2 separate regions of the Homo sapiens genome follow, and region 1 is linked to region 2. The links come from fine-mapping of genetic effects on gene expression. A gene starts in region 2. The other region holds a variant in brackets. All regions are shown on one strand. Distances are between the middles of the regions.

What was found.
Region 1: its variant is fine-mapped to the expression of LMO2 in nucleus accumbens (GTEx, PIP above 0.99). The same link has a PIP of 0.9 or more in caudate.

What each region holds. Positions count from the first base shown.
Region 1 is chr11:33,859,491-33,874,992 of GRCh38, reverse strand. It overlaps LMO2 (LIM domain only 2), which reads left to right. Exons shown (of 6, transcript NM_005574.4): 3 at 5,006-5,283; 4 at 5,407-5,647; 5 at 10,176-10,391; 6 at 15,418-15,502. The coding sequence starts at 5,277. Among named protein-coding and RNA genes, the nearest start is that of LMO2, 25 kb to the left of the region's middle. RefSeq lists silencers at 4,371-4,610, 5,041-5,460, 5,481-5,560, 5,751-5,830. The variant C/G (reference allele first, on the strand shown) is at 7,885.
Region 2 is chr11:33,886,756-33,902,257 of GRCh38, reverse strand. LMO2 (LIM domain only 2) reads left to right here and starts at 10,182. Exons shown (of 6, transcript NM_005574.4): 1 at 10,182-10,463. It overlaps LOC105376621 (a long non-coding RNA gene), which reads right to left and starts at 8,312. Exons shown (of 3, transcript XR_931176.3): 1 at 8,223-8,312. RefSeq lists enhancers at 8,070-8,239, 10,617-10,726.

The DNA of each region.
Region 1 (15,502 bases), 27 kb after region 2:
CCCACTTCTCAGGCCCCTTCCACTAGGACACACTATGAGCTTAACACTGCTAAGAACTCACTGAGGAATGGTGACATTTGGGGGCGGCTCCTTCAGTGCTTTGTTTGGCTTCTTTTTTAAATTATAAATGGTGGTTTGAAAGTTGTTGGAGGGGAAAATCAGATGAAATCAGGGATGTGGCTGAAGCAGTCAGTGTAGCAGTGTAGCAGAGAAGCAGAGAAGCTGTCAGCAGCCTACCCAGGCCCCGAAATGGGCACAGCCCTGCATTTCTGGCCTGAGGCTTGCCGAGGTCTTAGGTGAACTTCAGCTCTTTCTACAGCACCCCAGTCTCAGCACTCTTTGGTGGATGTCCTGATTGGCTGGGAGATTGTTGCTTCCTGATACAGTGGTGATTACTTCTGAAAGATGGGGTAATACCAACAGCTATCGTTTCTGACCATTTACTGTGCAGCATCACTGTGCAAAGTATTTTTATACATATCCTATTGACTCCTCTCAAAACTCCTGTGAGGCAAGCAGGCACCCCAGTGGCCTCATCCTAGTTCTGGCCCTGGTGACATTATGATTGCCTCCATCCTCCATTTGATAGGTACAGAAACTGAGGTTCAGAGAAGTGAAGTAAATTCCCCCAGATCACGCAGCTAGCAAACAGCTGAGCTTCTATGCTCATCCTAAGGCTCGGTTGAAATGGATTTTTTAAAAGATGTATTTTGGGCTCTTTACTATATAGAAAACCGAATCTGTTTATCACTAAGGTTACTAATAGGCCTTACATCTGTGAAAACTTATCTGTCAGCTGGCCCTGAAATGTTCTGAAATGAGTCTGAGCACAGGATGCCTGTGACAACCGAATAGTTTAAAAAAATTCTCCATGGGAGCCGAAACCCTATTAAGACAGGTCTTTATTTTTGTTCCTGAATGCCACATTTAGAAACAAAATGTCATATTTTTGTATATGAATGTCACAAGTGACAAAGCATATGTTGCAACTTGGCTTCTAATGGTTGAAAAAAAAAGAGAGGTAAATTATCATAATGTTGGGATCTTCTCAATTATATTTGCATTTTCATTTCTATCAGAAGTCCATTTTAGCAAAGGAATGTAACCTTAGTCACTTGAAACTGCTGTTCCCTTAGAAAACAATTGTAAATGTAATAAGCAAAAAGGATAGAAAATGCCCACAGGGGAAAAAAATGATCCATCTGGGGTCAGAGCCATCGTGTAGATTGATTCATTCTTCTTCTAGCATTCTTATTCAGGAAGGAAAACTTGAACATTTTCTAGATTTTAGGATATTTAAGATTTGCAAGGAATTGGGGGAAAGGGAAAAGGAATGAAATTTCAGTCCCACTGGCAGGGATCAAATAGAGATTTTCTCAACTTTTAAAAGAACCGTTTTACATGTCCCAATCACCTCATAGTTCCTGAGTCTCTCTTCTGCATAAGGCATGTACTAGTTGTTAAGGGAGGATACAATAAGGTCATGATTGCTTTAAAATTATTCATAATAAAAACACATTTTGAGACTTGATTCTAAATGTTAAACTTAAATTTGAGCAATTTAATTGCCCGTTGAATAGGAATGAAATCCCACCGGTAGGCAGTTATTTCTTACAACCACTGTGTGTGAAATTGAAATCTTAAGATACCATTTCAAATATTCACCTTCTCTAAGGAAGTTCTCCCCAAAGAGTTGTGAAAGATAAGAAACTGACCCAAAGTCATATGCAGTAATCTCTTTTTCTTTACACACTCAGGTCAAAGTAGAAGCATATTATTAAAAAGAAACGTTATGCCCTGAATTTGGCTGTTCTGAGGTTACCTCTTGGAACCCAAGGATATATTTAATTTAAAAACTGACTTGAGCCCCATGCAAAACTGTGACAAGGAAAGTAATAATTTATCAGATTAAATAAAAACAAGCAGATGTGGCCAGGCGCGGTGGCTCATGCCTGCAATCCCAGCACTGTGGGAGGCTGAGGCAGATGGACCGCCTGAGGTCAGGAGTTTCAGACCAGCCTGGCCAACATGGTGAAACCCCGTCTCTACTAAAAATACAAAAAATTAGCTAGGCGTGGTGGCGAGCGCCTGTAATCCCAGCTACTCGGGAGGCTGAGGCAGGGAAAATCGCTTGAACCCAGGAGGCAGAGGTTGCAGTGAGCTGAGATCGCACCATTGCACTCCAGCCTGGGTATCAGAGCGAGACTCCATCTCAAAAAACAAACAAACAAACAAATAACACCCAAGCAGATGCAAACAGGTCATTTAGTCACCACGATAATGAACGTTAAAATGGAAAACACTTACATGTTTTATTTAGGAGAAGAAGGGGGTGAGGTGAAGGAATCCTGTTTCCTGCTTTTAAAAAACAGGAAATAGTTTCCAAATTTGGGTGGGCAATTCTTATTTTAAACCCCCATTTCACCTTTAAATTTAATTTCAAGCTCTTTTAAAATTATCTTAATGATGCCCTTTACTATAACATAGCAGCTGCCATTTATGAGTGCTTACTATATACCAGTTGCTTTTCATGCAAGCAACTTCATATCTGTTATTACCCCCATGCCATTACAAATCTATGTGCCACCCTTTTGTGCACTAACTCATATAATCCCCACAATAACTTAGGCAATAGGTTCTGTCGTCTCCATTTTACAGATGAGGATACTGGGAGTTTATTTGTTTGTTTGTTTATTTATTTTGAGACGGAGTCTCACTCTGTCACCCAGGCTGGAGTGCAATGGCGCGATCTCTGCTCACTGCAACCTCTGCCTCCTGGGTTCAAGTGATTCTCCTGCCTCAGCCTCCCGAGTAGCTGGGGTTACAGGCATGTGCCACCACACCTGGCTAATTTTTGTATTTTTAGTAGAGATGGGGTTTCACCATGTTGGGCAGGCTGGTCATGAACTCCTGACCTCAAGTGATCCACCCGCCTCGGCCTCTCAAAGTGCTGGGATCGCCTCGGCCTCTCAAAGTGCTGGGATTACAGGTGTGGGCCACCGAGCCCGGCCAGGATACTGGGAGTTTAAATTCCTGCTGTGAGCCCAGGTTGACACAGCTGGTCAAGGATGGGTTAGAATCCAGGTAGTCTGACTCCAGAGCTACTACCGCATACTGCCTCCTCAGATTAAATAATTTTCCTAGGACATGCTAACTGATAAGTAAGAGTCTAAATCAAACCCAGGCAGTTGGGTTCCAAAATTCCAGCGTTTAACCACCACATTGACTGGTTATAAGTAGGTAAACTGTTCATCACAACCTATATATTTATTTTCATTTCTGTTAGAAATGAAAGTAGTGTGGTAGGTTACATATTTATCACATAGTTTAGGCTTGCCTAAATTCTAAGTATTTTCTTTTTTAAATTAAAAACAAGGGTCTATCGGAAAAAAAAAAACCCAACTTTTTTTTTTTTTTTTTTTTTTGAGACAGGGTCTCACTCTGTTCCCCAGACTGGGGGGCAATGGTGCGATCATGGCTCACTGCAGCCTCAACCTCCTGGGCTCAAGCAATCCTCCCACCTCCGCCTCCCGAGTAGCTAGGATTTCAGGCAAGCACCACCACGCCCAGCTAATTATTTTTATTTTTTATTTTTTGTAGAAACGGGGTCTCACTGTGTTGCTCAGGCTAGCCTGGGTCTCCCAAAGTGCTGGGATCACAAGCATGAGCCACCGAGCACAGCCGAAAAAGTCTTTTTGTATACTGAAGTCTCCACTAGGACAAAAATTTGCTCTTAAGGCTTCCTTTGGGACACACACACACACACACACACACACACACACACACACACAGCTTTTGATTATACCCATTAGGGACCCAAGCCTTGGGACACAGGGACCAGAAAATGACAAGAGCATGCAGGCAGTAGTAAACTCTGGTTATCCTTAAAATGGGAACAGAAATGTATGCCTATGATCCAGACTGATCATATAAAACCATGGATCCTGAAAGTACGTTCCCTCTTTACAAGCCTTAATGACTGGCATCACGCACAAATAGGCCTTTCAGCTTCTGAACGCAGATATTTTCAAGGAACTCTGAGGCCCAGGAGAGCCTAAGTTTTTCTCCACGGAAGGGCAAACTACTAGCCTCCCCCGCTTCCCCTCTGCGTTCCTGCCTCTTTCTAGAAGGAGGCTGAGAGGGGGAAGCCTGAACCCCCAAATCAAGTCCGCCTTCTTTCTCTGTGCCTGACCCAGGGCAAAATAATCTCTCTGATCCTGTTCTTGACCATTGAAAAAGCACTTTCTCTGGTCGGGATACTACTGGCACTTTACATGGGGGGCAGTTTAACCGCAGGAGTCCGCTTTCTGAAAGGTGCAGAGGGAGGGGATTCCGCCACCAGCCGACTGAGAGGAGCCCCGGCCCCGCGTGGTCCCTCCCAGCCACCCTCCCTCTGGGATTAGCTGCCCTGGCTCTGCTCTAGGCGTCCCCAGCCCGTGCAGTCCCGGCTGGCGCACCACCATCGCCTCTGCAGAGCGCGGCCGCAGCCCGGAGCCCGCAGCCCGGAGCCCGCAGCCTGGGGCCCGCAGCCCGTAGCCCGCAGCCCGCAGAGCCGCGCTGTCCGGGGCATCCCAGTGCACGGCGTCCGTGGACCTGGGACCTCGAACCTGGGACGGGCGGAAAATCCACTGGGAACACTTGCATTTCTGTAGGTGCTTATTTCACATTCTTGTCTTTTCTTGCTTGCTCGAGCTGTTCGTGGGTTACTTTCTGCCTTAGTTAAACCAAAAGGGAAAGGCGGAAGAGGGGAAGCCCTGAAGAATGATTTAGTGGTTGCCCAGCCTCCTTTCCAAGGAGAGGTGTTCGCTGAGCGGCTCTCCCCGTCCCCGACACTGGCCCCTTTAAGAAGCCAAGTCAGTCCTGATGCTGCTGTTTGTATTGCTAATCCCCAGGAGCCCCGTTTAAAAAAAAAAAAAAAAAAAGGAAGAAAAAAGGGGAGGTGGGGGGACCGGGCAGCTGTCTCTTTAAATGTGATTTCCTTCTATTGTATTTGAATCGTGATCAGGAAAAAGGAAATGAAACCAGAGACAGAGGGAAGCTGAGCGAAAATAGACCTTCCCGAGAGAGGAGGAAGCCCGGAGAGAGACGCACGGTCCCCTCCCCGCCCCTAGGCCGCCGCCCCCTCTCTGCCCTCGGCGGCGAGCAGCGCGCCGCGACCCGGGCCGAAGGTGCGAGGGGCTCCGGGCGGCCGGGCGGGCGCACACCATCCCCGCGGGCGGCGCGGAGCCGGCGACAGCGCGCGAGAGGGACCGGGCGGTGGCGGCGGCGGGACCGGGATGGAAGGTTAAGTCCTGAGCAGCAGCAGCAGCTGCAGCCGCCTGGAGCCAGGCTGCGCGCCCCGGCCCCCGCCTCGGCCGCGGCGCGCCCGCAGCCCGGTGATTCGCTCTCTCTCTTTGGCGTTTGAAGGGAGCGCGGTGACTGTCCTTGAGCGCGGAGGGGCGAGCTCGCCGGCGGAGCGCCGGAGCAAGCGGAGGCGCAGGAGCGGCGGCGACGGCGGCGGCGGCGGCGGCGCCCGAGCACCCGAGGGGGTCCGAGCCCCGGCAGCCGGCCAGCCCCGCGCCACAAAGGGAGCGCCCCCGCCGCCCGGCACCCCGCCTCCCTCCCCAATGTCCTCGGCCATCGAAAGGAAGAGCCTGGACCCTTCAGAGTAAGTGCGGCCCCCCTGCCCCTGCCACCCCCGGTGTCCACGGCCTCGCGTCCCGGAGCGTCGGGGGGACCCGGGCGGCCCGCGAGGGGGCTCCAGGTGCGCGCTCGCGGCGTGCCCTTGGCCCCCTGTGCCGAGCGCTGGGCTCCTCCTTCCTCCCGGGTGATTCCGGGGGCTCTGGGAGAGGGACTGGGCGGCGGGCGGCAGGGACAGGGGTCGGCCCGGCGCCTCTGCGGGCCACTCCAGGCTACTGGGACGCTCCCCAAAGCCACCACGGGCCAGAAAGTTTGCACGGGAGCAGGCACGAGGAGAGCCTGGAGGCGCGCAGGTGCAGTCCGGAGAGCGTTCTGGGCTTGACTCTGCTCCCTTCTTCCCTCTCCTTCTCGGTCCTTTCTCTTTGTCCATTTGGTCTTGGAAAGGGGAACATTCCAAGTGGCGGCCTCCGGGGTCCCCAACGGCCGCCTTCCCGGTCCGCAGGTGGAGCCGCTGCCAGCCTTGCGGATAACGGGCGGGTGAGGGGTCCGACCGTCCACCTCGGAGCTGGCTCTGGGCCTCCAGGGATTTCTAGAGCAGCGAAATCCGGAGTAAATCTGAGTAGGTGTACCCCTCCTCGGGGTCCACCGATGGGGACATGTGAACCTCGAAAGTTAATGCACCATTTTGTGTATAGGTGAATTATTCTGGGGAGTAGAGTCTCGTAGTTTTTAGCAGAGTCTTAAAAGGGTTTGGGGTCAGGGAACCAGAGCTCTAATGAGCATTGGCCGCATCTGTTTTCTGAGCCGCGTACTGGTTTGGAATGTTTTTCTATCCCTCACCCATTCTTCAGCGTTAACATGGGGAGTAAGGGGTGTTTAAGATATCATTTTCCTGTCAACGCAAATGCCCTTTTAAGAGTCATTAGCTGTCTGGTTTTGAGAATTTTTATTCCTTTGAAGTCCCCCTCTAATCCTTTGAAGGGATTTGTTACACAAGACCAAAGGAGCTGGTTAATGACTTGTCCATTTGTGCTTTTAAGAGACATTTGTTTTGTTTTTTCTTTTCCTGCTTTAAAAGAATTGTGCTTTCCTGCTTGAAATACCGCACACACACACATACACCCTTCAATTTCGGCTTTCTATGGTGTTTATTTACCTGGGTTTTACCCTCAGTTACCAGCATAAAAGCTCAACATATTCTCATAAAACACAGGAAGTACCACCATCCAATGAGAATATAAACATCACTATTCAGTCTTGAAGGTTAAGACACCAGTTCTGTAATGAGCTAGGTTTGTTATAACAAAAACCCCCACTTCCTTCAACAAATTCTCAGGAGAAAAATAACATTCCTTTTTAAAAGTATGTTTATGCAAACAATGGGTTTAAAGGGTGGTTTGATCACTTTTTTAAAATAAACTTAAAACTGAGCTCTGAGTTTCAGAGACTGGGCAAGATCATAGTAACACAATAAGGGAGTGAATTGGATGAATTGGTGCCTCATGCCTTTTTGATCAGCAGAATTTAGTCACTAATCCTTTCAATAGAAGATTAATCTGAAGGTTTCATTTCCCTGAAGGAAGTTTGCTTCTTTCAAAGTTTGTGCTTTTTCACTGAGGTTAGAAACTGAAACATCCTAACTTCCTAATACAACAGATATCTACTGCTGGAGGCTCACCAGCTCCTTCCTTCACTTCACTATTTGCCCAACGAAGACAGATTCTGATCAAAGAGGGACAAGCCAGTTGAGAAATTGCTGCAGCACATTCTCCCCATGCCCTTAGAAATTGTTATGATTGTCCCAGAAATCCAGGCTTAAATGATACTCAGGTGTAATATTCAAGATAAGGGTCTGGGAGAATATAAAATATTAATTTGAGGGTGAATCAATCTAATTCAGTCATTGTCTTGGATTGTCCACTAAGTATAATGTGATATTATCATTAATTAAGTATAGAAAGACAGAGCCAATATCTTATACTTTACTTCTCCATCTCATCTCAGGCCATCACCGTAACTCTTTTACTTTACATTCCTCCTGTTGTCCAGTATCCTACTAGATGCTTCATTGTGTACTTCCTCAAATCCAGCTTGGGTCATTACAATCAGCATCTCCAAATTACAGATGGAGACTTGCCTAGCTATATGCAAATGAAACATTTGGACAGAAAGCCAGCCAGAATTCATGAACACAGATTCCCTTGCTGTGCTACTGGTGGCCCCCACTGCCTCCCCTGTGAGTAACAAGAGCAGTTCATTTGAATT[C/G]CAGGCAGTTTTGCACCAGCTAAGGGCAAATTCTCTTCTTTCACAGTCCTTTGGCAGCATCAACATCGGGACATCCAATGTGCGTCCAGGTTCCATGAGTGGTTTTGAAAGCCCAGAGTAAGACCATGGGCTGTGGAAAGAGAAGAGATGCAACTCTGAGTTGATACACATGAAAAAGCTAGGGTATTAGTTATTAGAAGGGGAAATGGCAGTCCTTATATACAATCTGTAGAAACAAAGGAAAGAAAGCAAGGCTTCAGTGAATGAAACCTCGTCTCTACTTAAAATAAAAAAAATTAGCTGGGCCTGGTGGTGGACACCTGTAATCCCAGCTATTCGGGAGGCTGAAGCGGGAGAATCACTTGAACCCAGGAGGTGGAGGTTGCAGTGAGCCGAGATTGTGCCATTGCACTCCAGCCTGGGCAATAAGAGTGAAACTGTGTCTCAAAACAAACAAACAAAAAACTATAGTTTTGAATTTTTTTGAGCTAGGGTCTCACTGTGTTGTCTAGTCTAGAGTGCAGTGCTCACTGCAGCCTCAACTTCCTGGGCTCAGATGATCCTCCCACCTCAGCCTCCTGGGTAGCTGGGACTACTGGCTCATGCCACCAAGCCTGGGCAATTTTTTATATGTTTTGTAGAAACAGGATTTTGCCACGTTGCCCAGGCTGGCCTCAAACTCCTGGGCTCAAGTGATCCTCCTGCCTTGGCCTCCCAAAGTGCTGGGATTACAAGCGTGAGCCACTGTACCTGGCCATTTTTTTTCCCCAGATAAACTAACTTGAGCTTCCCATTTTCTTGTTCCAAAGATGATAGTCTCATGAAGTGCTGTTACACTGTGTCTAGAAAGTGTGGGCATGGCTTTAGCACTCCTAAATATTCATAAGGAACACTTCATACTTCACATGACGGGATCACCTGAAGTTGTCAGAGTGTTATAGACATTGAGCCACCTAGCCTCCTGTCCCCAAGTATAATGGCTGCTGGGCTTTATGGGCACAGACCAATTAGGACACAAGGTCGCCTGGTAAGTTAGTACCAGTTAGAAATAGGAGACATGGATTTATACCTGCAGGGTACCCAGGAGGAAACTCCCTTTGGGAATTTTACAGATGGAAGAAGGTCTGTTTTTTGAAACATAATAGATTTTTAAGAAATAGATTTGTGTTTAAGTAAGGTTCCAGAGAACACTTGCTAATTATTATAAATCAACACGTATTAAGTGTTTGCTGTGTCCCATGTGGGGGACACTAGAATAATTCCTTCCACTCCTTTATTTTCTTTTAGCAAAGTTATTTATTTTTAAATGTAAAAATGTATTCAGATTCCAGTGAAGCAAAGTGAACAGGAGATGCTATGCATGGCGTATTAACGAAAGAACACGTGTCACAGCCTATTAACAATTGCTGGATTGAGATGTCAGTGTCTGTTTAATTGCCTTCCACTCTCTTTGAAATAATCATTGCCCCCACTTCATTTTCTTCCTCAAATCAACTTTATCCAAATCAATTTTACTCTTATAAAAATGTTCAGGTAAGGAAAGAAAGGCCTATTTGATGTCCTTCGTGTAACAATGGCCTTACGATATGGGATTTTCCTCCAAGTATTCCTTCAGTAGGAAGAATGGAAAATGGAATTTCTGTAAAAAAGTAAAATTAGGAGAATTCCTATTATGTCCTGATGGAATTTTGATTTTGGAAAGAGAAAGCAACCTAAAATAATTTTTGGTCTCATTCTTCTTTCTTCCTCACCTCTGCTTTTGTGCAGTTGGTTAGGGCTGGAGGGAGGATGGCACTGGGGATTTGCAGATTCTTAGCACTCTGGGTCATCTGCTGCCCTGGCAGTGAGCGACTCTTTTAGTCCAGAGTGCGTCCTTTGAGGTTAGGCAGTGCCCTTGGGTGTCCAGGTTATGGGAGGAGGAAAATGAGGGAGATCTGTGAAGATAGAGTCAGCGGGGAGAGTGGGAAAAAGCAGAAGGAGACCAGAGGTGCCCAGGTAGTGCTGGGCATGGGCAGGGGCACAGTGCCACCTGCAATTGCCTTTGATGCCTCTTGGTGCCCTGTGTTTACTTCTTAGACATCTAGGGAGTAAGGTCTGGCTCTTTCCCGTCTTAACCCAAGGTTGGTTGGGACTCTGCAGTCTGGCCAAGGGATGTGTTGTCCTGTCCCTTCTCCCTTAGGTCACTGAAAGGCAGTCAGGTGAGATGCCCTGTCTGGCCCAAAACGATCTCGGACCCTCGGTGCTGGTCTCACTCTGGTGAGGCTGTCCCTGATGCTTGGCCTTCTCTCCAGGGAACCAGTGGATGAGGTGCTGCAGATCCCCCCATCCCTGCTGACATGCGGCGGCTGCCAGCAGAACATTGGGGACCGCTACTTCCTGAAGGCCATCGACCAGTACTGGCACGAGGACTGCCTGAGCTGCGACCTCTGTGGCTGCCGGCTGGGTGAGGTGGGGCGGCGCCTCTACTACAAACTGGGCCGGAAGCTCTGCCGGAGAGACTATCTCAGGTACCCTCCCCGGCACTCCACTGGGCCCTCGGAAGGGAGGCTGGGTGGTCCATGGACATCTGCAGTCGGTGTGTGTTGCCCCTTACCCTGCTCCAGGCTCGGACACCACCTATAGAAAGAGGTCAGACTGCAGAGGCTGAGTCTCAGCTCCTGTGCTGAGAAGCAGAGGGCATTTCTTCCTGTTTGAGAAGCATGTTCTCAGGGTTACGTTCCTATGTGGTAAAATACTAATATCTTTAAAGGCAAGAGAATTGTATACCCAAAATTCAGAAAAGTGCTTCCCTTGGGGAGCGGGAGAAGCTAGGGGATGGGATTGAGGAGGAGTACACACGGAGGATCAGAGGGACTGGGAGTGTTTCTAAGTTTGGAGGTGGGCTCTGAGGACCTCATTTGAATGCTTCAGAACATATATGTATGTTATAAATTTTTTTTGTATGACTCCAGTATTATATGATGAGAAATTTAAAAATAGAAAGCATATGGAGCTCCAAGCATTGACTCATAGCAGGAAGGCAGTCTTCGAAGAGCAGAAAGGCAAAGGCCCTGTAGGCAGTTGGAGGTTTGAGTCCCAATACCATTGCTTCCCAGCTTGGTGGCCTTGGGCAAGTTATTTAACCTTCCTAAGCCTCGATTTCCTTATCTGTAAAATGGGGATGATAATAGCACCTACCTCTAAGGATGTGGGGAGGATTTGATGGAATAATGCAGATAAACTACTTGGCTTGGTATGGATCAAATAGATGTTAGCTGCTCTTACATAATCATTATTTTCCAATCTAATGAGCAAAGGGATGGAAGAATGGAAGAGTAAAATAGGAACTCGACAACACCAAGTAAGACAGGAGCTGAGGACATCTCCCATGCTCTGGGCCATCCTATTGGCCATCCGAATTTTCCAGCACTGTGTGAAAGCCTTTGCCTAGAATGTACTAGTGTTTCTAGTTTCCGATGAGCTGCTGTGGAGGTAACTGTCTCTGTGCCCTCTACTGTCAGATCTGCTCAACTGTGTAGCTGTCAGTATTTCTCCGTTTTCCTGGAGCAGAGGGTCTGTGAAGCATGCTTCCCTGATACACCAGGACCATCCAACCCATGGAAGCTTGTTGAGACCTCAGCGCCCTTGGCTGCTGGGCCAGCTTTTCCTCCCAAACCTGCCCTCAGAGCATTTTACATTATAGAAACAAAACAAAACCAAAAAAACTGCAGGCAGTTTCACAGTGAAGGAAGCTTTACCTAAAGACTGTTAGAAGAAGCTTTTTGTCCTTGAATTCCCAGATAAAGTTCTTGCAGTCCTTGCAGATATGGTGGTTCCGAGAAAATAAGTAGGATTTTGCAATGATCATGCTTATAATTTTGGTCAGTTTTCTTTTTTTTAAGTCACAGAAAATAGAACTTGGATAAATACAGACCTGGTTTTGCTCACTCCCAGTTTGCCAAGTCAGTGAGAGGGCAGACGGGTAAATGATTCCCATCGGACCCTTGACTCCATCCCTGTCAAATCATTTGAATCTTATTAACTGAAGTGCAGATAGAGTAAGGTCAGAAGAGCCCCAGCTTCTCCCTATCTCTACCGTTTTATATAACATTCAGGAATAAAACCAGTGCTGCCTGGGCTTGTTAATCCTTTCCATTTTCAAAAAGGAGAGGAAAAAAAAAACAGTCTGGGAGAACCCAATGTTAATTAACTTGTGTCTTGGTGACATGAAATAATTCTTCTCCCTGCCACATTCCTAGGCAACATGTTAATTAACTCTGCATTAGTGCAGGCATTTCCAGCCATTCTTTAATATTTATATTATTGTTATTAAAATGGGCAGCAGAGAGCTTAAGATGGGACATCTCTTGACAGAGGAGAAAAATTGTCTTTTGCGTCAGGGATGGTCCTTTAGCCAAGGTCTTGTTTACTGGCATTCTTAGTATATCTGGCAGGATCTTTTAACAAGGCAAGTTGGAGGAGTAACTGAACGGGCCCTCTAATGTGTTTGAGTTCTTCACCCCTAGGATAACTTGTCCCCGTGAGGATTTCCAATGGCTGAGTTGCCTGTTACAGTTCTTTTCCGACATTTAGCTTCAAACATTCATGAGACCCCCATGCAGAACCTCAACTCTGCTGCTGTGTTGTATTGTTGGGAACCCAAGAGCAGCTGTTCATGTCTGTGCTGAGCCAGATCTCCTTGGATCCCTTTTCACTAATTCTTGTGTGCTGGGAGTGGTGGGGTGGCGGTGATGGCAGTGGTTTTGCTTTTAACAGCCAGCACCTGAATCTGTTAGAGCCAGAAGTATGCCTGCCCCAACTAGACCCCCAACGGACCTTAACCAGTGACAGACATGGTGGGAGTACCAAGCCCCGCAGCCTTGCCTGGAGCCAGGCATAACTTATATTCCAGGGTCCCTCCCCTCTGAGGGACTTTGCCTGAGGATACAACTTGGCTTGGCTTCCTCCCCTTCCCTCCAGCCTCCCCTGCTGCCTTCCAGGTTTTTCCTGAGAATGCCTCATTCATAAATCACTGGCACATCAATCCTTGCCTCAGGGGCTGCTTCTGGGATATCCAGCCTAAGATACCAATTCTTGGTGCCAGAGGTTAATGCTCAAGTTAGGTGTCAAGTCCCGGCTTATTTTTTACTAATATTAGAATCTCCGAATCCCAGAGCTGGAAGGGGCTACAGAGACCTTCTTTTTCAGTTCCCTTGCTTTATGGCTTAAGTCACAGAAGCCTGTACAGGGGACTCCATTTGCTCAGGTCACCTGGCAAGTTAGAGGTCATGCTGGGACCTGAACTTGTCTCCCACATATTCGTCCTTTGTCCTTCCCTTCATAGCTGCCTGATGTGGGTTGTAATTTACCCCCTGACTTCCCTTTAATAAGCTCCCTCCTTCCTTAAGGATCGCACACCCCAGGCAGTTGGATTCATTCCATGCACACTGTTTTCTCAGTCGTTCATCCTTGCTCAGGCCCAAACTTAACTTACAGAGCAGTCAGGAAACCAGAACTGTCTTTCCACTCTGTGACCTCCAATGTGGCGGTTACCTGCAGCTCCACCATCTGCTACGTTGGGATAAAATGTTCTCCCCCCAGTAATGAGTTTGCTCCCAGGCGGTGCTTTGAAAACACTCAGAGATCTTCAAATGGAAAGCAGGATTCAGAGGCAAATTAGCTGGCCCTGGCCCGAACAATGAGCTCTCCACTCACAGACCACCTCTTGTCAATTCCATTAATCTCGCCCAAATATTGCAAAATGTGTCAACTGCCCTTAGGTCCCCTACAACCTCTCAGAATGTACCCACTGATTCTCTGATATCCTGAAATCAACCAGAACTTCCAATAAGAGCAAGCATTCACCTAAAACTGTCCTAAAGGTTTTATGTAGAAACCACCTGCTAACATGCTATGTTTTCAGCCACGAGTGAAAATTACTTCCTGCAGCAAGACTGGCACAGCTGGGAATACACCCAAGATGTGTTAAAACATAACCAGCGTTGGCTTAGCCCTTGACCATGGGTGCCCTGACATGCTTCGTTTGGTTGTTTTAACAGCTGAGTGAGGTGGAGCCTATGATGGCTGCCATTTCACTGAGGCTCAGAGAATCAGAGGTCTCTCCAGGGTCACTCAGGGCTGGTCCGGGACATTGAAGCTGGGTCTTCTCTGCTTCCGGTACTTGTGTTACTGCACTTTTGCTGTTGATTCTCAAATGTCAGCCTGCAACCAGTCCCCCGGAAGTGTTCATTAACGCACAGACTGCTGGGCCTTCTCCCCAGGGTGTCTCAGTTGGGTAGGGAAGGAGGAGGGCTGAGAATTTGTTTTTTTGTTTGTTTGTTTAGTTTTTGCTTTTCTTTTGAGTCAAGGTATGGCTCTGTGGCCCAGGCTGGAGTGCAGTGGCATGATCTCGGCTCACTGCAACCTCCACCTCCCGGGCTAAAGCCATCCTCCCACCTCAGCCTCCCAAGTATTAATAGCTGAGACTAGAGGCATGCACCACCGCACCCGGCTAATTTTTGTATTTTTTGTAAAGACACAGTTTCACCATGTTGCCCAGGGTGGTCTCGAACTTGTGAGCTCAAGTGATTTGCCTGCCTCAGCCTCCCAAAGTGTTGGGATTACAGGTGTGAGCCACTGCGCCCAGCCTGAGAATTTGTATTTCTGTCAGGTTCCCAGGCAGTGCTGATGTCGCTGGTCCCAGGACCAACACTTTGAGAACCACTGCACTGAGCCCTGCCATGTTCTGTCTCCCACCTTGACACTGAATACTGCCTGAAATAAGTGACTGATCAACTGAGGCTTGGGAGAGTCTTGATTTAAATGTCAGAAAAGAAGTTTCCCTTTTGATTCATGCCAGTGGGCAGCGAGGGCCATGAATTAAGATCCTCCCTTCATGGTGGAGAGATGCTGTTGGTCCTCCATATCTCAGAGGCACGATTAGCTGCACCGCGTGTTTTCTGTGGAACTCCCTGTCTCCCAGCAGCTGGGGCCCCAGCGAATAATCAGGGGGAGATGTGCTTTGCAGCTTATGGAGGTATTCAAGGCCAGCTCTCCCCATGGGTAGAATCAGTGGCTGTTGACATGATAGAGTTTGGGAGCCTCAGAAGAATGCCCGTTTTATTGCATTCCTGGTCAGTACCCTCTCAAAGGGGCCCCTAGGGTCTCTCTCCAGCTGCTCTTCTGAAATGAGGGTTCCCCTGGGAGGGGACAGGTAATACTTGCCTAACTCCTTATGATAGATCACATCAGCTGAGAGCCTTGCCCACAGAGGAGGAGCCAGGGGGCAGCCTAGGGGAATGATGAGCGGTTGCTGCAGACAAGGAGAGGGCTCAGAAAAGGGAGGAGTTATGCCAGATCCAAATGCCAGTTTCATCTGAGTTCCCTCTGCCTGCTGGTGAAGACTGCACTAGCCGGCCCTCCTTCTGGAGCCGACCTTCCCTGGCTTCCTGACATCCTGAAAGTTCGGCCTCCTTTCTAGGGCTCATCCCCGAGCCCTGTCTTCCAGGATTGTCCCTTTCACTGTCTTCTTAGCTTTTCTTTCTTTTGCCCCAGGCTTTTTGGGCAAGACGGTCTCTGCGCATCCTGTGACAAGCGGATTCGTGCCTATGAGATGACAATGCGGGTGAAAGACAAAGTG
Region 2 (15,502 bases):
TCTTCCTGGGCCTCTCTTCCTTGCCCTGCTCTATTTCATCTTTCAGTCTTGGCTCCATACGGTGGCAAGATAGCTGCAGCAACATCAGCTACCCAAGGTGACCCTTCTCTGAACCAATCCCAGTGGCCTGGGAGGCACCATGCTTTGATTAGCCAGGCATGCTCACGTGGCCTACTCTGGAAGTTGGATGTGGGAACTCCACCAAGAACACAGGGACTAAGAGTAAGGAAGGAATGGCTTTCCAAGGGACTATCAAGGGGGAGAGATGGGTGCCAAGGAGCCAACCATGCCAAGTACCAAGAGATGAGGGGGTGCTATGTTCAGATTGTAGCTTTGTGCTGCACCTTTACACCTCCCTGCTCTGGTGGTGCTAACCCACCTCCCTGGCCCTTCTAAATCCTGGGAAGGGGGACTCAAGTCCTTATTCAGAACTCCAGCAGCAGGCTATAAATCCTGTCCCACTTGCCTGAGCCCTTTCAGCCCCTTCACTCAAGGCTAGTTTCCAGATTACCCTAACCTGGAGCTGGCGCCATGTCCTGCAGGAGACGGGAGAGGGCAGAGGGCAGCTTCGGGCTCTTAGGTAGAATTTCTTCTTTTTAAATTTTAATTATTATTTTTTTGAGACAGAGTCTTTCTCTGTCTCCCAGGCTGGAGTGCAATGGTGTGATCTTGGCTTACTGCAACCTCTGCCTCCTGGGTTCAAGTGATTCTCCTGCCTCAGCCTCCTGAGTAGCTAGGAGTACAGTCGCACACCACCAAGCCTGGCTAATTTTTGTATTTTTAGTAGAGATGGGGTTTCACCATGTTGGCCAGGTTGGTCTTGAACTCCTGACCTACATTGATCCTCCCGCCTCGGCCTCCCAAAGTGCTGGGATTACTGGTGTGAGCCAAAGAGCCTGGCCTTACATAGAATTTCTGCCTATGGATCTCACTTTTCTCTGCATTAATACTTACCGCTCTGTTTTCTGACTCTGTTGCCATCAATTCCCCATACAACTTCCTGCCTATTCCATCAGGTTGGGCTCTGTGGTTATTGTCACCTGCCTAAATTGCACTTGGGTTTTACTCACACTCCTTTGGACCTAACTGTCAAGTTCTCAAGAGAGAAGGTCCCATCTCTTTGGTCTTATCGCAGTGAATCCTTACACCACCACCATGAAATGGGCATTATAATTCCTACCTTTTACAGGTAACAGAATAGAATAGAATAGAGGCATGGCAAGCTAAAATAACGAGTCCATGGTTACACATCTGGCAAGGGACAGAACTAGGATTCAAACACAGCCGGTCCGACACTAGGGGCTGTGCTCCTAACTTCTACATGATAGTGCTCAGTTTTAGGGGGAGAGGCTCAGGTGTTACAAAGGGCTTACCCAGAGTTGGGGAACAGTCCCAGGTAGACTATGCCAAACCAAAACAGAACCATCACCAGGAGTTGGCAATGAGTTGTCAGGCTGTCCTAACCTAGAGATTGGGCTCAGCCAATGTCACCAACAGGGAGGAACTCAGACCAGGAACACAAGGGCTCAGAATCCAGTTGCTAAGGTCCGAATAACAAGTGCAGGTGCCCAAATCTGGGGAGGGCAGGGCCGGGGAGAAAGGTGATCTGCCAGGAGGCAATTGACCTGCCCCCTTAAATGCAGATGTTTCCTTCCTCAAGTGCATATCTTGGCTCATGATTCAACCCCTTTATACTCATAGAATCTGGACCTCAAAACATTAAACAGAGATGTTTACTGTGGGTTGGGAAGGGGGACAGAGGTGGAGAGCTAGAGTTCAAAAACCGTATGAAGATGTTTTCTGAGCTGAATACCCCCAGTAGGGCCACACGATGCCCAGGGGACTCACTAGGAGATTTAAGGCATGTACAGAGGTAAGAGAAAATGAGAAACAAGAACATGAAAACTAGAAGAGGAAGGAAGACAAGGCCAAAAAAAGAGAAAACCGAGGCCACTCTAGCGGGAGGTCAGAGACTTGTGCTTTGGCAATTACTGGAGTTGTCCCACAGCGCTGCCCCTCAGAAACCTACACCAGGGTTGGAGGGAGCCATGGGTGGACAGGCTGTACCTGATAACTTGTGCTTCCTTCCCCCAGTTTTCCCACTCTCGTTAATGAGTTTTGAGACAAAATGTCTCTCCCCAGGCTAGAAGAGCTTCAGTAACAAGATGTCCAGAGTTAGTTGACACTCAGGTGAAAAGCCTCTTGCAGAAAGGAATTTTTTTTTAATGCCATCATAAAACTTCCCAGCTCACCTAGGCCTGCCGTGGAAATGGTGCCTCCAAGGACAGAGAGGAGATCAGAGCATCTGATCTGAAGCCGAGGCATAAGGGAAAGTTGGGAATACACAATCCTCTCCCAGACAGAATCAAACTTGCCTTTCTGCAACATCTGATTTTGCAAGAAGTGACGGACTGAGAGTAGGAGAGGAAAAGGAGAGTTCAAACAAGGTCACTTGACCCACCTAACCCTGTCCAGAGGAATGAAGCCTGAGAAAGCCTCCCAGAGACCCGTCCTCAATTTCGCCTTGACCTTTTCTGGGTTTATCCATGTGCAGCAGGGGCAGCTGTCCCGAACTAATCCTCTGCCTAATTCGAGCTCTTCACCCTCCATTCTGTCTCAATTAAACAAACGCGGGTCTGCCAGGCCGTTTCCATAGACCACTCCCTCACATGAGAGGCATTCCAGCATCTGGGCTCTGGAGTCAGGAAGAGCTCTGTCCAAATGTCACTCTGCCATTTCCTAGCTGAGTCACCCTGGATGACTGCCCATCCCTACGCCTCTGTTCTCTCAGCAGTGAGTTGGGGAAAATTGTACTCATCTAGAAGGGCTCAGAGAAACAACAGGGAGAGAGTGCTGAAGGCATTGTGATGAAAAATATTGCTGAATTATTAAACATTAAATTATCAAAATTATTAATCGCATTAAAATATCATTACACACTTACCTGACCCAAAGTCTTAATGATAGGGTTCAAGAGGCTTTTCCTCCCAGAGGTGCAGCTTTGAGGGGCTTTTGTACACTGGCCCTAGAGACACAGGGGTGAATAAGACAGGTACCAGCTCTCAAAGGCACACAGTGAGCAGGGGCCACAAGACAGCCTAACGCTCAACTAGAATCAATGCTAAACATACTATGACAGATAAATGTACAGTGTGCTCTCAAGAGATAACAGTGCCCACCTAGGAAACTTAGGGAGTTGTCATTTGATCTGGGCCTGGAAGAGCGAGCTGGATTTGATTGGATGGATTGTTCTTGGCAGAGGAATGACATTTCAGGAAGAGGGAACAGCAGGAGCAAAAAGTATGATGTTTGGATTCCACTCGGGATATTGGGAACACATGAGAAGGACTAGAGAATGCAGTCTGTTATGTGGGATGGCAGGCTAGGAGATGAGAAAGGTAAGCTAGTCAAGACTCGGAAGTGGCTAATACAACTGAAAGTGGTCCCATAGGACAATGGGAGAACTTTCAGTGATGATGGAAATGTTCTACATCTGCCCGTCCAATATGGTAGCCACTGGCCCCATGTGGCTATTGAGCACTTTATTTATTTATTTATTTTTATTTTTTGAGACAGAGTCTTACTCTGTCACCCAGACTGGAGTGCAGTGGTGCAATCTCGGCTCACTGCAACCTCTGCCTTCCGGGTTCAAGAGATTCTCCTGACTCAGCCTCCTGAGTAGCTGGGATTACAGGCGCACGCCACCATGCCCAGCTAATTTTTGTATTTTTAGTAAAGGCGGGGTTTCAACATGTTGGCCAGGCTCGTCTCAAACTCCTGACCTCAAGTGATCTGCCTGCCTCCGCGTCCCAAAGTGTTGGGATTATAGGCGTGAGCCTTCGTGCCCGGCCTATTGAGGACTTTACAGGAAGCTAGTAAGACTGAGCTGTGAAATTTTTAGTTTTATTTAATTTTAATTAGTTTGAATGTAAATTTCAATAGCCACATGCAGCTAGTGGCTACTATTCTGGACAGTATAGCCACAGAACTTATGACAATGACTCAAGGCCCTCATCTTGCAGTCCCATCCTCAGCCCATAAAATGGGAGCCCCGCCCAAGCTGCTGCTGTGATTATGCAGCAGGGTAGATGAGTTTGGGGCTGAAATATAATTTATTTCCTGCTTGCTAAGCCACGCACTCTGATGTGGCAGTGTCTGCCCAGAGGAAGAGGCAGCTTTTTCTAATTCTTACAGAGGCATCATGTGGGCTAGCAGTAGCCCTGCTTCCTCTGAAGTTTGTTGCTCAGTGATCTGTCTGCATGTAGAGTCAGGTTTCTTTTCATCTCCTGCTTCCTGGAGTCACTGGGCCAGGTACGCACACCTGGAACATGGCCCAGGTGGGATGTGCTGGGCACTGACTGTTAGTGATGCTCCCACAGTGTGAGAAGGCCGGGTCCTCAGTATGGCTGTCAGTGTAAAGTTCTATTCTGCATCCCAAATTCTGCCCACAGGCAGATCCTTTGGCCTAAACTTGAGGAGGAGGTAATGATCTCTACTTTGACCACAGGTTGAAAGGGCAGTCACTATTCCACTTTGCCAGCAAGAGAGCACATATTATAGTTTAATTCTCACTTGGCTTCCTGGTCTATTTCTCAGTTGTTTCTAATACAAAGAGGAAAGGTAAAGTCATGATACTTTTTTGGAGCCTCCTACCTCCCAGCAAAAAGGACATGCACATACTTTCCAATCTTGAATGCAAAAGCGGTGACATATTCACGAGCCAACAAGTACACACATGACATTACTGCTCTAAAACACAGGCACAGACTGTCAAGAGTTGGAAGGAATATTGAATTCTAAAATCTCATCATAAGATGAGGAAACTTGAGTCTCAGAGAAGTTTGATGATCCGCTCAAGCCAGGTAGGAGCCAGATATGGCTAGATCCCATTTCTCCTGAATCAACCCATACCTAATTATTAAAATTAAAGGTTGCGAACTGGTAGCCATTAGTTAAAGTCAGCCTGCTGATTTTTAATTTTTTGTCCTCAGTGTTGGCTCATGCACAACTTAAAAAATATTTTTGCCAGCCTGGCCAATAAAGCAAGCCCCATCTCTACAAAAGAAAAAAAAAGATTTTTAAAAAACTTAGCCAGGCATGATGACTTGCATCTGTAGTCTCAGCTAATAAGGAGGATGAGGCAGAGGACTGCTTGAGCCAGGAGTTGTAGTCTGTGGTGAGCTATGATCACACCACTGCACTCCAGCTTGGGTGACAGGGCAAGACCCTGTTTTGAAAACAAAATTAAAAAAATATATATATTTGGCTTTATTTAAAAGACGAAAGAATTCACTTTGAAATCCAAATTAACGAACATTTCTGGGCCTGTAAATCTACATGGTAGAAGGGGCTGAAGCAATGTCGTGCCTGATCCTACCATAGAGAGGATAAAGGGGAGGAATGAGGGATGGGGATCATTTCAGACACTGATAATTCAAGCAGTTAAGCTGGATCACAAAGTAATATATGCTGCTTTCAAAATGTCTAGTTCATGATTCATTATTGCTTATTATGAGGACTTAGAGTTTCAATCTGTAGAAGTTTCAATAAAATACAGATCTTAGAGATCATGCAGTCAAGCCAATTCATTTTACAGATGAGCATCACAGGTCCCAGACCACACACGCCTTCAGATAAAAACAGGGTCGCAGAGGTGGTGACCAGGCCGGAGTTGGTGGATTCCCCTGGCTCCTGCACTATGGGGGCGCTAGATCTGTCACATTCCTTGCCCCTTTACAAATAGTTTTGGGAGCAAATCCCCAGGAATGTTTCTTGTGGATTCACATGTATCAAGGATACTCATTTCCACACCAAAGGCATTGATGCCCCACCTGGCACATAACAGCCACTCAATAAATGTGTTAGATGAATGAATGAATGAATGTGTAAGTGTGAATGACCTCAAAGGTGAGTGATGCTGCCTAAACCAAGGTCATCGAAACTGGCCCTTAGGGCACCATTCCCTGAAGCCACCCGTGCCATCATCTTTATTCACAGCCAAGCAGCTGGCCCCAGAGCTTTGTGTCTTGCTCTTCCCCAGATATCTCAGTGAAAAGCCTTTGATTCAATTTTCACTCCCTCTCTTATAGCTCTCTTGCTCTAGGACTCCACTGGGGGTCCGAGAGCTGTTCTTCCTCTGCTATTTCCTGTTGTTCTTGAATAAAACAAATGCCCCTTCAACTTTGCTTCTCCATGGGACATGTTGTTCTCTGAGAGGCTCCTTGATCCTGCAAGTAATTAGGTCTGGAAGGGAGGGTGTCCTATTGGCCCTCCAGACTGGTTCAGACATGTCTAGACCCAGCTTAAATTACCTTGTCTGTTACACAAGGATGGTAACATGTTGGAAAGAAAATGAGACAAGCACTTTGCTGCTGTCTGGTAGAGCAGGTGGGGCTCCTGTTTAACATTTGCTGATCTCCACTTAAGAGCAGAACATCATCAGCCTTAGTCGCCATGCTGAAATGGGCTCTGTCACTTGGATAGCGTTTGTCAGTTGAAAGCTTTCTCTCCATAAACATCAACAGACTGGAAACCCAGTGAAAACTTTGTTTTTAATATTTAAAAATTAAGTCTCCACATGCACTCTGGGACAGAGGGGCAATAAATTACAACTTGCTATGTGCCAGAGATTATACTAATTGTATATCTGATTAAATTCTCACAACAGCCTTAAGAGGGTTTTGTAATCCTCATCTGCAGATGAAAAGTGGAGGAGGAGAGAGTAAGTGGCTTGCCTGAGTAAGGGCCAAGACGGAATTCAAACCCAGATTTTTGATGTCACAAAGCTAGTATCCTGGCGGGGCGTGGTGGCTCATGCCTGTAATCCCAGCACTTTGGGAGGCCGAGGCAGGTGGATCACTTGAGGTCAGGAATTTGAGACCCACCTGGCCAATGTGGATAAACCCTGTCTCTACTAAAAATACAAAAATTAGCCGGGCGTGGAGGCAGGCGCCTGTTATCCCAGCTACGAGGGAGGCTGAGGCAGTAGACTTGCTTGAACCCAGGAGGCTGAGGTTGCAGCGAGCTGAGATCACGCCCTGCTGCACTCCAGCCTGGGTGACAGGAACAAGACTCTGTCAAAACAAAACAAAAAAAAAAGCTAGTATCCTTCTCTTAGTGTTGCCCCCTGCAGAGGAACTGTTTTTTTTTTTTTTTCTTTTAAAGCACCCTACATCACATAATGTCAGCTGGACTTTTCTGTGATATTAACACTGGGATCCTGTAAAACACTATATTCTGACCATAGTCTGACACTCTGCATAATGAACAATTAGCCGGGAAAACATAGTATTTGAACCTCCTTTGCAGAGAGGAAATTCTCACAACTCCAAAGCAATAGTCAGCCCACAGTCAATGCCATCTCATCACCCAGCCCAAGGCTCGGCCTAAAACCTTCTAGAGGGTCTCACTCTAAAGATAACCCAAAGGTCTCACAGCTTCCTGGTTGCAAAAACGACAACAGGAGCAGGAATTGAGACCTAAAGATCATTTGGGTAGAAATGAGGAAAGAAATGACATGTTAAATGATGATTTTTCCCTAACTTGCCTTGTTCTTTCTAGATGTGGCTCAAGAACTTGCAGAGTTATGGTGGGATAATTCGACTGATCAAATGCTGAAAGTTTTCCTATCGACTTCAAGGCTGTTCAAATCTCTATGTACTTTGAAGTCTGAGGCACAAGATAATTTCCCAGAGATTCATGTTTCTATCGATGCTAGGCTGGGCTGACACAGATAACCCCTCAAGAGGCCTTTCCGAACTGCTGTATAAACTGTCCTGGGTCCAGCAATAAAGCAACTGTGTCATTATAGTTCTCTGCCCTTCAGAAGATCTGATCTTAATACCCTTCTCTTCTTTTTGTCCCTCTGATTTCATCAAATTTGTTGCCATTCTGGGTGTTTCTCCTTCTCTCCCCGACTTTTTCTACTTCAGATCAAAGAACTTCCCCTTTTTCCCACTTTTGGATTTGCGCCCTGGAGGACAACGCAAGGTTAACTTCCCTCCCACCTCCTCTTGTAGGCACACAGGGTGCCCCTTAGCCAGCGAAATCTCCGCGCCCGAGATCCTCTCACAATTTCAGGCTGGTGAATTGTAGTAGGAGACATGGTTTAGTTTGATGTGGTTAAGTCAGTCATCATGGCATCTTCGTACCCTCAGCCCCAAACCGCTCTCCTACTCATCACCCTCACTTTCATTTCTTTGGATTATCTTTCATCGGCTTACCACCAGCCTTCACAGCCTCACCCAAGGCTGAAGCAGGGCTAGCAGGGTGGTGCGTTTCCTTCCCTGGTTGAGCTGGTGACTGCTGTGGGTAAGCAGGTCCAATGTGAACTCAATTTTACATTGAGAAAGAGAAAGCAAGAGTGAGTGGGCTGCTAAGACTGTTGCTTCATGGTTTCCCCTAAGCCCCAGAAATAGAAAGGCAGACTTCCGACTGGCAGAGCCCGTATGCTAACCACCAGACCACACTGCCAGATAAGAAAAATGTTCGATTGTGTCATACTTCCCTCATTGGCTCCAGTGTCTGAAAATGGCCCTGAATTTCAGAGAGTCTTACCATGACCCAGGGATTTAGAGAGGATCGAAGAGGGAGGACAAAGGAATCAGGCACCTTCTCTCTCTCTTTTCTGGGGTAAATTTATTTTCAACCACAAAAGTAAAGGAAAGAAAAAGTCACAACAGATGAGTTATGAGCTAACTTTCTGATTTGCACATGTAAGAGAAAGAAATGAACTGGATATCATTAGACATTGAGAAAGGGAGTCTGCAAGCTAGCAATGTATCTTCGGCCTTTTTGATTTACACGTGTTTATTTATGAGTACCTACTGTGTGCCAGGCATGATGCTTGGTGCTGCCAATTCAAAGAGAAATAAGACACCTCCTTGCAAAGTGAGAAGGCAGAACTAGATTCAGATTCACCTAGATTTCAACTCTTGTGCTCAGGCCACCACCACCACCATGGAAACAATTTTGCTTGACTCTCCCGGCGCAGCCGCGGCAGGCGTGTGTGTTGTCAGACACTGCAGGAAGAGTGATGGCCTGGGTGTTGACAGGCTCCTAATTGGAAGGTAGGAGGTGCCACCAGAGATCAGCTATAAAAGATATCTTTGGACTGGGGTGGGCTGCTAATGCTTGGAAGAGACTTGTGGGTGAGGCCCGGTGAGCTGTCACCTCGGAATTGGGCCTTGCCCAGCAGACAGACATGCATGCGGGGGAGGTAGCTGACAGACAGGGGCGCATGGGGAAGCAGCCATTCCAGAGAACTGCAACAGCAGATTGCAAACCAGGACTTCAGGACTCAGAGGGGGACAAGGAAAGGAGAGCCTATAGTGGCCCCAAAGCCCAGGGTCAGAGGCAGGGCCAGGAGAGCAGCTGACAAGAGCTTTATGGTAAGGACAAAAGAGAAGACAGCCGGAGTCTCCTTTTATTCAGCTCATAAAGACCCAACTTCTGTGCACTTATAACTGTTCAGACCCTGAGGGGTTCAAAAAAAGAACCGTGTTAGGAGAATTCAATATTTAATTAAGAGATGATCAGATCCGTGCACCGAAATTATTGCTGGGTAAGACAATACTGTGTGTGTTACATAGCATTGGAACTTAGGAAAGCTCTTTCCTTGTGTTGTTTAATTTAATCCACTCAACAACCCTGCAAAGTGGGTACCATTGTCCCTGTTTTTTATGAATGAGGGGGTGAGGTGCTGAGAAGCTGTGTACGTTATTTGAGTTTGTCTGGCTAGTCAGTGGCTGAGCCAAGTTCCAATCCAGGTCATGTGAGCCTCTGAACTTTCTGATAAAACCTGCAGACCCCCTTAACTGGGATAATATAGTCATGCATTAAGCAAGAAGGAGAAGTAAATACAGGCTGATGGTGTAGGGGAGAAATTCAAAGGGAGAAGGCCTAGGAGGGAGAGGGAGCTATGTGTGAACAGAACCAAAGATGGCCTCTGGGAATTGGAAGGTCTCTTGGAATTCGTCCAAACTGAGGATCACAAGTCTCCACATTCTGAGTAGGAGGATGAGGGTCTGAGTTAGGATTTGGGTCCTGCAGGGCTTGCTAAGGAATCCCCTGATGGCCTAGGATTCCACGCAGAGCACATCTGGTGTGAGAGAGCTCGCTGCAAGGGTGAAGGCTCCGCCCTATCAGATAGACAACCAGGCCACCAAGAGGCCCAGCCCTCCAAACCCTGGATTTGCAACATCCTCAAAGAACAGCAACGGGCCTTGAGCAGAATTGAGAAGGAAATACCCCCACCTGCCCTCAGCCGTTAAGTGGGCTTTGCTATTCACAAGGGCCTCTGGGTGTCCTGGCAGAGAGGGGAGATGGCACAGGCACCAGGTGCTAGGGTGCCAGGGCCTCCCGAGAAGGAACAGGTGCAAAGCAGGCAATTAGCCCAGAAGGTATCCGTGGGGCAGGCAGCCTAGATCTGATGGGGGAAGCCACCAGGATTACATCATCTGCTGGTGAGTAGGCTTCATTAATTCTCTGATGAATGGACGATTGCAAGGGAACTTTTTTCATCTTCAAGGAGCCAGAAGAAGTGGTGATTAAATTGGTCTTTTAAAATAAAAAGACTCCAAAGGGGTACAAGTCTTCAAGCTTCCCCTGTGGTGTTCCGGGCACTCTGGCTTCTCTTTCGGAGGGAGGAAGAGCATCTATTCATAGGCTGTGACTTGGAGAGGCCCCACGGTGAGTCAGGCGCTTGCTGTGTGAGCCGCTGGTTGCTAATGTCTTCGGGAACTGCTAATTTACCCATCTAATTTGTTCCTGTACACTGGCCACAAAGGGAGACCACTCAATTATTCTGATCCAAAAGAGAGGCTTGTGTTTACCATGATCTCCCCAGCAACTGTGTGAGTGTGTGTGCATGTGTGTGTGTGTGTGTGTGTGTGTGTGTGTGTGTGTGTGTGTTTGCCTAACAACCTTAGGCAATGACGAAGAGGTGGGGCTGCTGCCCTTGTTAGCATTTTCAAACACATTCCAGTTCTGAGTTGAGGGCAAAGATTGTAATGGGGTGCTTCAGAGAAGCCTTGGCTCCCAAGGAGGTTATAACTTCAAAGGGTGTTTTTGAAAAACCAAGGCGGATGAGGAAAGTGGCTACAAGTTCCTTCCATCACAGAGGATCAATGAAGGGGAACAAAGATTTGGGAGCATCTACTTTGTGCCAGGTACTGTGCTTGGGTTTTACACGTCTTCTCTTGTTGACTTTGCATAACTCCCCTTTGAAGCAGATATTACTCCAGGTTCTTGCCGTAATGTTTCAGCTTAAAGAAAACCAACCCATACTTCTTTAGGTTGCCCTGAAAAGGTGAATCTTCTGTGAAGCCTTTTCTGTCTTTATCTGTTAAAATTAATTAAGCTCTTGTTTGTGCTCCCAGAAAATCACTTTAGACCTTAGAAAGATGGCAGCCTCAGTTTTCTCATTTGTAATATAGGGGTACCCATAGGGTCATTGTGAGAAATAATAGAAATAAATCATGGAAGTGCTTGGATAGTAGCTGGTACTTAGCCCTCATCAGTCATCATTGTCATTGTTGTTAAGAGTAATAATAATAATAATATCACTTATTATAATTACTCACCTCTAGGTTTTTAAAAAACTTACAGGCCGGGCACATTGGCTAACGCCTGTAATCTTAGCACTTTGGGAGGCCAAGGCAGGCAGATCGCCTGAGGTCAGCAGTTCAAGACCAGCTTGGGCAACATGGTGAAACCCTGTCTCTACTAAAAATATGAAAATTAGCCACGCGTGGTGGCTCATCCCTGTAATCCCAGCTACTCGGGAGGCTGAGAGAGGAGAATTGCTTGAACCCGGGAGGCGGAGGTTGCAGTGAGCCAAGATGGCACTATTGCACTCCAGCCTGGGTGACGAGAAACTCCATCTCATAAAAACAAAAACAAAAACAAAAAAACTTACATAAATTTATGGGGAACAAGTACAATTTTGTGACAAGCGTAAATTGCATAGTCTTGAAGTCAGGGCTTCTAAGGTATCTATCACCAGATTGATATCTATTGGTATCTATCACCAGATTGATATCTATTGATATCTATCACCAGATTGATATCACCACATTGTACCTATTAATTAATTTCTCATCATCCTCCCCCCACCCTTCTGAGTCTCCAGTGTATATTATTCCATACCCTAATGCCATGTGTTCACATTATTTAGCTCCCACTTATGAGTGAACAGTGTGATATTTGTCTTTCAGTGTCTGACTTTTTTAACTTAAGATAACAGCTTCCAGTTCTACCCATGTGGCTGCGAGAGACATGATTTCATTCTTTTTTATGGCTGAATAATATTCCATTGCATATATATACACCACAGTTTTAAATCCAATCATCCATTGATGGACACTTAGGTTGATTCCACATCTTTGCTATTGTGACTAGTGCTACGATAAACATACAAGTGCAGGTATCTAATTATTTCTTTTCCTTTGGATGGATACCCAGTAGTGGGATTGCTGGATTGAATGGTAGTTCTAATTTTAGTTCTCTGACAAATCTCCATACTGTTCTTCCTAGAGATTGTACTAATTTACATTCCCACCAACAGCGTATAAGAGTTTCCTTTTCTCCACATCGCCACTAGGTTGTAAGTTCCTTGAATGTAGGGATCATGTCTCTTTTCTTCATTGTTTTATAACAAGAGCCTAGGAGTGTTTGGCACATGGCAAGTACTTGTTTTCTAGCTGACAGATGAATGAACAAATGAGTGAAGGATGCTTCCTCCTCACTGCTGTGAGCTTCTGAGAATGGACCCTTGTCTGACCTGCTTCTGTATCTCTAGTGTGACTGCTTTGTCTGGCACAACAGAACTGCTCAGCGATTCTGTTGAACGGATGCTGCTGCCTGGCCCGTATCTGGCCTGGAGAGTCTGGCTGCGAGCTCATCTGTGCTCTGGTCTGGCTAAGGTTAGCTGCAGCCCTAGGAACTCAGAGAGTGTGTCCTGGACATTTCACCCCTAGTTGGTGAGCTCCTCAAGGGTAGGGACGGTGTCTTGTTTATTTTTAAATTCTTGGTGCCCAGTACAGTGCCTGGTACACAGGAGATGCTCAAATGGCTACCCCTAGCCTCTGAGGTCCCACTGCACTCAAAGAAGAGCAGAGCTCCAAATGACCTTGTCATCTTTCCCCTATTACCCAAACCTGTTCAATTTCCCCATTTCTGTTTATTAAAGATCCATTTTCTCAGTTACAAAGATCCAAGACTCCTCGAGGGTATTCTACCCTAACGGAAATAGGACAGGCTTTGTAGTCAGACTTGAACCCTGGCTTTGGCGACTACTAGCTGTCCTGCCTGGAGAAGTTGCGTACCCTTCCTGAGCCTCAGTTTTCCCTTTCATTGAATCAGGATGATAATACACACTTCATTCATCCACTCAGCAAGTGTTTACTGGGCGCCTCATACACAGCAGGAACTGTTCTAGGCACTGCGGATACGTAGACGTCAACAAAACAAACATTGCTCTTGCCTGAAAGGGGCTTACAAACTTGAGAGGGGGAGACAGACACCAATCAAATAAGCAAGTACACATATAGTATGCCAGATGGCAATATGTGCTAGGGAGAAAAATAACACAGAGTGAGGGAAAATGGAATGCGCTGGCCCGGGTTATTAGTGTCTTACTCAGGTGATGAAGGAAGACCTTTCTAATAAGAAGAACTCACATCTGGGGAAGAATGTTCCCGGAAGAAGGAGAAGAGCAAAGGCCCTAAAGCAAGAGTTTGAAGAATGACAAGGGGTCCTGTGTGGATGAAGCAGAGGGAGGGAAGGAGGAAGGGAGTGTAAGAGAAGGGGACACAGAGATGGCTAGAGCCAGATATGCAGGGCCTTATAGGACTTTGGCTTTTTACTCTGGGCAAGAAGGAAACCTTGGGAGAGCTTCAAGCAGAGGAGCGAAATGATCTGATGCAGGTTATGAAAGGATCCCCCTGGCAGTGGCACAGAGTATGGCCCCTGACCTGTGTGGATGGGGCAGAAGCATAAGGCTGGCCATTTGCATCCCACAAATGACCTCAGTGTGAGGGATGAGCGAGATCATATACGAATGCGCTTGCGTGAGTATGCATAGAGCAAGTGCTCAAGCCATGGCAGCTTCTATCAATGGCCCTGCAGCTGCCTGGCTATAGCTCCCTGGTCTCCTGCAGACAAGTCTTGGCCAGTCACGTGAGTGCCTCTGTCATTGCCCACTCAGTCATTCCCCCTGCCCCCACCTCCTTTCTTCAACCCTTCACTGGTGGTTAAGCTCCTAGCACAGCAGCCTCACCTCCAGCCTCTCCCCACCCCAACCCAACCCAAATGCAACTCCACTCACATCCTTCCCCTGTTCAAGAGTCTTCCATGGACTAGTGGCTCATTAAATCCACATTCTTGGCTAGGTGCAGTGGCTCACACCTGTAATCCCATCACTTTGGGAGGCCAAGGCGGGCAGATGGCTTGAGCCCAGGAGTTTGAGATCAGCCTGAGCAACATGGCAAAACCCCATCTCTACAAAAAGCAAACAAACAAACAAACAAAAAACAAAACAAAAGAACAAAACAAAAATTAGCCAAGCGTGGTGGCACACACAGCTGCTTGGGAGGTTGAGGTGGGAGGATCACCTGAACTCAGAAGGTCAAGGCTGCAGTGAACCACAGTATCACCACTGCACTCCAGCCTGAGCAACAGAGCAAGACCCTGTCTCAAAAAAAAAAAAAAAAAAAAAATCCACATTCCTGGAGACTTGCAGCTAAGGCCTTCCACAATAAGATGCTGCATTTACGTTTCCCACCCATAATCAACTGCTATCCCAAACATATTGAATATCTGTGGAGAAGTATGGGTGGGTGCAATATGTCACTCCTAGCAGAATCACTGAGGAAACTGACCACACTCATGATGGAAAATTGACGGTAATGAGTCCTTCCCTCAGGTTCCCCAACCCCACAATATGCCCTAACCATGGTGGACATGTATTCCTGTCTGTCACTGGCTCACTTCTCCCACCAGGCTACCGCAAACTCCACAATGATGTATATTCTCTTAAAGCTACAAAATGGCTTGTGGTTTCCAAATCAGTTTTCCTTACTGCTCTTATCTCCCTTGATACTTGCCCCTATGGGCCCCTCATCCATAATAAAATGCCCTCATTTTACACTTACTAGTTCTGACAAGAGTCCCAGGTTCCAAGTCATGGATTCCCATGTGGGATTGCTCCTCTGATCCTTCATTCCTATATCTTTTTTCAATCTATCCACAATTCACAAGGCATCGGTGTCAGACCAATGGCAAATAATAAGTGGGACCTGCTGGCTATGGATGGAAGAGCGAAGTCCCTGACAACATGTTTCTACCAGCCTGGAAATGAGGCTCTCCCATCCCCTAACACATCTACCAGTTGTGATGGATTTAAAGGCTGGCTAATGTTAAGCTTGTTCCACAGGGGATAGAATATTGGCCCCTGGACTGACACCTACCACCATGTGGATCTTGGAGCAAGACAAAGGAGCCC